2 linked regions of the Homo sapiens genome follow. The protein of the gene in region 1 interacts with the protein of each later gene in a pairwise test. Each region holds a gene or a part of one and is shown on either strand. Other genes may lie near its edges.

Evidence for each region.
Region 2: the proteins of KIF5A (region 1) and TRAF3IP1 interact in a two-hybrid assay, tested with the Homo sapiens proteins (2 studies listed by IntAct).

The regions. Positions count from the first base shown.
Region 1 is NC_000012.12:57,552,838-57,556,751, reverse strand, and holds part of KIF5A (kinesin heavy chain isoform 5A), read right to left. Parts: intron 1-3,914. UniProt on the Homo sapiens protein: Microtubule-dependent motor required for slow axonal transport of neurofilament proteins (NFH, NFM and NFL). Can induce formation of neurite-like membrane protrusions in non-neuronal cells in a ZFYVE27-dependent manner.
Region 2 is NC_000002.12:238,323,230-238,327,143, reverse strand, and holds part of TRAF3IP1 (TRAF3-interacting protein 1), read right to left. Parts: intron 1,839-3,914; coding exon 1,770-1,838; intron 1,336-1,769; coding exon 1,174-1,335; intron 1-1,173.

The sequences.
Region 1 (3,914 bases):
CAGCCAAAGGGGATTAAATGTAACTCTCAAGCCAATCTTGCCCCTCCCCTCCCCCCACAAACACATGGGCACCAACACACCAACCACCCCACCCCAGCCCCCACACACACTCCCTCAAAACATTCCCAGTTACAGGATCTAGAAGGCTCCACAGACGCATTAAAATGGAGAGCGCTCTCCAAATGCTGAAGCCAATTATAGCCCCTTTTCATCAGGAACCCCTTTACATCAGTCTAGGCTGGGAAGAAAGAAAAGAGCAGAGAGGGAAGAAGGAAGAGATTCTCAGATCTGAGTCTAAAAGATACCCAAGAGTGGGCTGGGCGCGGTGGCTCACATCTGTAATCCCAGCACTTTGGGAGGCCGAGGCGGGTGGATCACGAGGTCAGGAGATCGAGACCATCCTGGCTAACACGGTGAAACCCCGTCTCCACTAAAAATACAAAAAATTAGCCGGGCGTGGTGGCAGGCGCCTGTAGTCCCAGCTGCTTGGGAGGCTGAGGCAGAAGAATGGCGTGAACCCGGAAGGCGGAGTTTCCAGTGAGCCGAGATCGCGCCACTGCACTCCAGCCTGGGTGACAGAGCGAGACTCCGTCTGAAAAAAAAAAAAGATACCCAAGAGCTAAAAATTGGTGCATTTAGTAATCTCCTGAGCAGGGAAAGCCATGTGACATGAGATATGATTTCAGGAGTTCTGGGAAGGCCTGCTACCTACTTCTGTATTCTTGGCTGGGCTCTAAAATTCCAAGCCTGGCTCTTTATGTCTTTAAGTTGTTTATTCCTTTTAAAATGTAAATTTGTTTTTTCTTTTTTTTCTTTCTTTCTTTTTCTTTTTTTTTTTTTTTTGAGATAGAGTTTCACTCTTTCGCCCAGGCTGGAGTGCAGCAGCATGATCTTGGCTCACTGCAACCTTCGCCTCCCAGGTTCAAGCGATTCTCCTGCCTCAGCCTTCCGAGTAGCTGGGATTACAGGCGCCCACCACCACGCCCGGCTAATTTTTATATTTTCAGTACAGACAGGGTTTCACCATGTTGGCCATGCTGGTGTCGAACTCCTGACCTTGTTATCCACCCGCCTCTGTCTCCCAAAGTGCTGAGATTATAGGCGTGAGCCACCGTGCCCAGCCAATTTGTTTTTTTAATTTTTATTTATTTATTTATTTTTGAGACGGAGTCTTGCTCTGTTGCCCAGGCTGGAGTGCAGTGGCAAGATCTCGGCTCACTGCAACCTCCGCCTCCCAGGTTCAAGCAATTCTCCTGCATCAGCCTCCTGAGTAGCTGGGACTACAGGCAGCCACCACCATGCTCGGCTAAGTTTTGTACATTTCTTTTAATTTTCTATTGATTATACTCAGGATGAATTAATTTTGCCTGATTTTTTTTTCATTACTGCTCCTTGTACAGCAGGGCTAACCCATGGGCAATGTGCCTAGAGAAAAGTGATCTTTTCATGAAAATAACTAGACCAGTGGTCTTCCACTTTTCCTGCCCATAGACATGGGAAGCACCACCATTATTTACAGCTCTCATAACACACAATACTCTGAATCAGACTGTAGTATGTTGTGGGAGGTTCCTTATCAGAATCTGGGGGAGTATATAGATAGTTAGCAAAAGCCATATCTGATGTTCCTCTCCCCTGCCTCTGCGCAGGCCACTCCATGGGCTATGGATCACAACCTTGATCCAGATTTTCTTGAAGGCAGGGATTCCCTTTAAATCCCCAACACCAAACACAGTCCCTGGCCTATAGGATGCTGATGTAGTTTGGATGTTTGTCCCCTCCAAATCTCATGTTGACATTTGATCCCCATTGTTGGAGGTGGGGCATGGTGGGAAGTGCTTGGCTCAAGGAGGTAAATCCCTGATGAGTGGCTTGGTGCCTTCCCCATGGTAATGAGTGAGTTATCGCTTTATGAGTTCATGTGAGAGCTGGCTGTTAAAAAGAGCTTGGCACCTCTTGCTCTCCCTCTTTTTCCCTCTCTCGCCATGTGATTCCTGCTCCCTCTTTGCCTCCCACCATGACTGGAAGCTTCCTGAGGCCCTCATCAGAGCAGATGCTGGTGCCATGCTTCTTGTACAGCCTGCAGAACTGTTAGCCAAATATATCTCTTTTCTTTATAAATTACCCAGCCTGGGGTATTCCTTTATAGCAACATATAGAGGACTATGACAGATGCTCTTCATAAATATTTGTTGACTAAACATAGATATTGACAAGGAAGGGAGCAAGAAGATACTTGGGATCTGGAGGTTTGCATGAAACAATTAGTAAAAAGGAAAAGTGTTACCCACTTCCCAATTTTGTCAAAGCTAGCTTGTGGGGAGATAGCATATAAAATAGTGATAATATCTAACTCTTATTGAGGGTTTACTGTGTGCCTGCCATGTTACAAAGCAGTTTATATGCATTATCTCATTTAATGTTCACAGTAATCCTAGGACATAGATACTATTATTATTACCACTTTATAGATGACGAAACAGGCTCAAAGAGGTCAGGTAGCTTCCCCACAGTCACATGGCTGAGAAATGGTAGAGCACAGTTTCAAATTCAAGCAATCTGATTCCAGACCCACACTGCAAAGTGATCCAAGAACTGAAATGCCAACACTGTGTCAGAGCCTTATCAAGGCTTTTTCTTCCCCTACTCCATATCCCCCCTCCTCACATTTGGGCATTTTTCCAAGTATTTCCAGACAGAACTAAAGCCTTTCATCACTCCCTTTTTCCAACCTCAATCCCATTTTCAGAAGTATGTAATTCTGCCACCCACCCTCTCTACCTCCAGGTAATCGAAGACTCTGTGAGTTGTTAATGAGAAATAGTCACAGAGTCCCTCCTCCTCTTAGAAATGTCGCCGAAATCCAATCTCTCTCCCACCCCCAGCAGTCTAAGTGCTCCTTATAGCCTTCTCTGAAGGGCCTCTCTTCAGAGTCCCACAGTCCAGGGTTCTTTGTTCTCTTTTAATTTAATCACACTCCGAGCCTCCCTGGTGTCTCCTCTTCCATTTGTGTATCCCAGCACCTTTCTGTACTTTTCTATCATGTGTGCTGACTGAAGCTAATTGGGGCTGGGGGTTTAAGATCAGGGGTCCAAAGATGACCAACCTGTTCAACCCTCAGTAAAGCACTTGGTATAAGCTGAACTTCAAGTGCCAGGCCTGATTTCCATAGTGACACCCGTGGGGATTGTTGCCATGGTAATGCTGGAGAGACACTGGCCACAATGAACGTTACTTCTCGTCTCCATTTTTCTTTATGAGACTCCCCCAAAGCAAAGGACAGCCCTGCTCCCCACTTCAGATATCAAATCCCAGGCCACCCCAAACAATACTGATTCTGCTCCAATAACCCTGCAGGTCCCAACCTAGCTTTGCCAAGTGAGGTACACAATGGTCCTAGTTTCTTGCATTAAGAACCCACTTAACCATTGGGAGACCTGAGGGAGGTAGCTGTGTACACTTGAATGAAGGGGAAAGAGAAAGAGTGTGTGTGTGTATGTATGTGTTTCTTCACTGTCATCCCTCCCACATCTGGTACAGATGCAGCAGTCCAGACAGCAGGCACTGGGACACTGCTGAGAAAGACCAAGGCAGAGGAAGACAGACACTTAAATGGGTCTGGCGAAAAAGTCACACTGGATTCTGAGTGTGCAAAAGCAAAACAAGATGGGCACCACACACAGACGGTGACCCAGACACCCTTCTGCTATGACTCAGGCCATTAACTTTGGCTAAGCCCCATCCCCCAGGTTCCTGGAAGAAGTCAGAGGAGTAGGGGAGAAAAAAGGCACACAGAGCTGTCTCTCCAGCTTATTCTCCTACCCTCTAACAAGCAGAACAAAGCCCACGAACAGAAGGGACTCTGAAGCTCAGCGCTGGCCGCAGTGCTGCAGAGGCGAAGGGGAGAGCAGTCA
Region 2 (3,914 bases), on another chromosome or scaffold:
GTGGCGACTGGAATGGAGGGCTCAGATATGGGAAACGAGAGAAGGATCTGAAGGGAGAGAAGTAGCAGCAGGTCTCTAGGAGCCTCACAAGCTGTGCCATGGAGCTGGCCCAGACCCGAGGCTACTGGAAGCCGGAGATGATTCAGCAGAGGAGACAGGAGCCAGATGTGCTTTTTAGAAAGATGAGAAACATAAAGGACCCGGGAAGGGGAGCTGGGGAGCCTAGGGACAGAGGCCAGTGTACTGGCAAGATCTGCTTCCAAGTCTCTAAGTTTGCATGCTGGACCTGCACTGGGGGGGCCTCCTAGGAGTCGGCCTGATACCACTATGCACCTCCACTACCCACTGCTGTTGAGGGGGCTGAAACCTACCTGTTCCCATTTGGGTCACATTTAAGGTTAGCCCCCAGCCAACCACCCACTAGGTATGTGAAAAACTGTATTAATTACACTCTCAATACAAGTCCAACCTGCTCCTCCACAGGGCACTACTCGGCCCTCAAAAGAAGGAAGACCCTGGGGAAAGACCTTCTCCAACATTTGGGCAAACATGGCCCAGGCTGGACCTAACTAGAGAAGCCTGAGGCCTTGACACCCAAGTTTCTAGCCCACAGTGAAAAGCTCAAGAAAGAAAAAATCTACTCCCCGTACAACTGAAACAGCAACCGAGAGAGAGAGAAAAGGTGGAAGAGAGAGAGGAAGGGCAACAGGCAAGCAGACACCAGAGGCTGGAGATGGAGGAAGAGAACAGAGACTCCCATAAGACCCAGGGAAGAAGAAAAGCAGCTCCTGCAGCCACTGCAGCCCTGGCTGGAAGCAGCCACCTGTCCTCAAGGGAGCCTCAGAAAGGAGAAAGCCAGAGGGCATGGAAGCCTGGGCCTGCAGCCTCCAGCCTCCAGCCAGGCACAGTGTGCCTGCAGGGTTCCCGACTTTCTACTGAAAGCTTGCAGAACTTGCGTATTACATACCCTTATTTGTTTTATCATTCAGTATTAAATTACTCCTTCTGTATCTCTGGGGCTCCAGAAGGGGTGGGATCAGATTCAAAGCACAGTGTTTGACAGACACCACTGAAACTCCTTCCCTAAACCGCCCGCACATGTGAGTCCCTCACCCCCGACTACTTTTTACTCAAGTACTAAGTAAGTTCAAAATGCCAGGACAGCAGTAGTACCTTGTTGAGACAGCATTTTCCAATTATCTGGAGCAGCTCGTTTGTTCTTTCAGGCTCATGCCCCGCCACGATTCGGGCTGGTTTGGCCAACAGTGGCTCTCCCGACACCATTACAACCACGTCTATGGCCTTTTGTAGGAAGCTAATTTTTGCATCTTTATCCTGAAACATTTCCATTGAAAATACAAATATTACAATACTTTGAAGAGTGTGCATTATCTTCTGTATGTTTACCAGGCATAGGATAGTTTCTGTTTACATACAAAGCTGTTTTTAGATATATAACAAATCTAGAAATACTGACCTTTTACTGACAAAACAAAAACAATTCATTAAAGCCTTTAATTTAGTTGATGGGCTAGCATTAACCTTTGAAATACTAATCCCATTTTTCAGTGAATAAAACTAGCATGACATCCAGTTGCCACAATGAGAAAATGAAATGAGAAAGGGTATATATATCAATTTACGAATTCACTGACCTTGTATTCCAACCACATGCAGCAGAGAAATGACACAAGCCACACTACCAGGCCTACAAAAAATCCCATCCGTTAAGGCGAGGAGTCAATAGGAGAAGCCCGACTCAAACCCACCTTCACATTATCAGACTTCATCTCGGCGTCTGTGTAGAGGCCCTTCATGAAACCAGTCATTCTAATCACCTTCAAGAGAGAAAGAAAGGCCACCATGTCACCTCACAGACAGCCTCCTCATCAGCCTCATCCACTCAACTCCACACTTGGGAGATGTCAGAATTGACTAGCAGCCCAGATTTGAATCATCCACTTAAGAAATATTTGATGTCTACTACACGTGCTGTGCAGGGCAGAAGCCAGCCAGATCCTCTCAGAACTTAGTCTGGCTGTGTGGACAGACAGGTAAAGATGACACCATGCAGGTACTAAGGAAGCACTCAGGCTTGGTACCTAATCCACAATCCGGGAGGGAGCAGGAGTGGCAGGGAACCCTTCCTGGAGGAATCATACCTAGATGGGGACCAGGCTTACAGAAGAGTTGGGCAAGGGGACATTTCGGATGCACATGCCAAACATAAGAAAGTCCACACGGCTGGGTGTGGTGGCTCACACCTGTAATCCCAGCACTTTGGGAGGCTGAGGCGGACAAATCACAAGGTCAGAAGATCGAGACCATCCTGGCCAACATGGTGAAACCCTGTCTCCACTAAAAATACAAAAATTAGCTGGGTGTGGTGGTGCTCGCCTATAGTCCCAACTACTGGGGAGGCTGAGGCAGGAGAATCACTTGAAGCAGGAAACAGAGATTGCAGTGAGCCGAGATCGTACCACTGCACTCCAGCCTGGCGACAGAGCCAGACTCCGTCTCAAAAAAAAGAAAAAAAGAAAATGAAAGTCCACACAAGGTCCAGGACCCACAGAGTCCCCTGCAAGGGATCAAAAGAAATGTAGGACAGCAGGAGCCTGAGGCCAGAGAGACACTCGGGGCCTGGTGCAGAGGCCCTGTGAAGCCACTCAGGGACATGAACTGAGCTGAAGGACCACGAGGAGGACCTGGAACGGCATTTTACAAGAGTCCTTCAGGTGCAATGGAGGGAACAGATTCCAAAAAGAAAAGGAACTTTGGCTGGGCACAGTGGCTTACACCTGTAATCCCAGCACTTTGGGAGGCCGAGGTGGGTGGATCACTTGAGGTCAGCAGTTCAAGACCAGCCTGGCCAACAAGGTGAAACCCCGTCTCTACTAAAAATACAAAAATTAGCCAGGCATGGTGGTGGGCGTCTGTAATCCCAGCTACTCAGGAGGCTGAGGCAACAGAATTGTTTGAACCCGGGAGGTGGAGGTTGGAGTGAGTCAGAATCATGCCACAGGACTCCAGCCTGGGCAACGCAGTGAGACTCTGCCTCAAAAAAAAAGAAAGAAAAGAAAAGGAATTTCTCAACCTAGTTTGCTAAGACTAGAAGTTCTGCAAGGGTCTTTCTCCTCACCACGTGTCACTACTCACTTCTTAAGATGGTGGCAGGCTCCACACCTCACTGCTTTGGTTCTCTCCCTAATCATCCCTTCCCTCAGGTAACCTGTACCTCCTAATTAGCCCTAAAACCAGCTTTTAGGGCAATTATTTTTCCTGTTCCTCTCAACCACCACACCCAGCCAGGGTCCTGGGTTGTCTCAGACTGCAGTTTTTTGAAATGTGGTAGGTTACTGTAAAATCAATACAATTTGTAGCAACAAGCATTTTGAATAGCTGGGACCCTTACCAGCAGGCTGCATGGTATGTGGTAAGGACAGGTATGCTCATAGCCACATATCCTAGGTCAGCTAATAAAGCATATTTATTACGGGAAGACATGTTTTAAAAACAAGACAGTCCCACCCTAATGAGAGCCTCCTCTGGAATCAAGCCACAACTCCTTAATTTGCATCAAGTTAGGTATTAATGAATCTAGGAGTTTTCATTCCACACCACACTATGTAAGAGCTATGCTACTGTTTTTCTTGAGATGACAGGTAGAATATTAAGAGCATCCTGCATTTAACATTCCTGGAACATTTTCATTTTGTCCCTGTTGAGGTTTTCCCAGGATGCTGGCAGTTAAAATTGTGAGCAATAGGCTGGGTACAGTAGCTCACACCTGTAATCTCGGCACTTTGGGAGGCCGAGGCAGGCGGATCACCTGAGGTCAGGAGTTCGAGATCAGGCCGGACAACATGGCGAAACCCCATCTCTACTAAAAATAGAAAAATTAGCTGGACATGGTG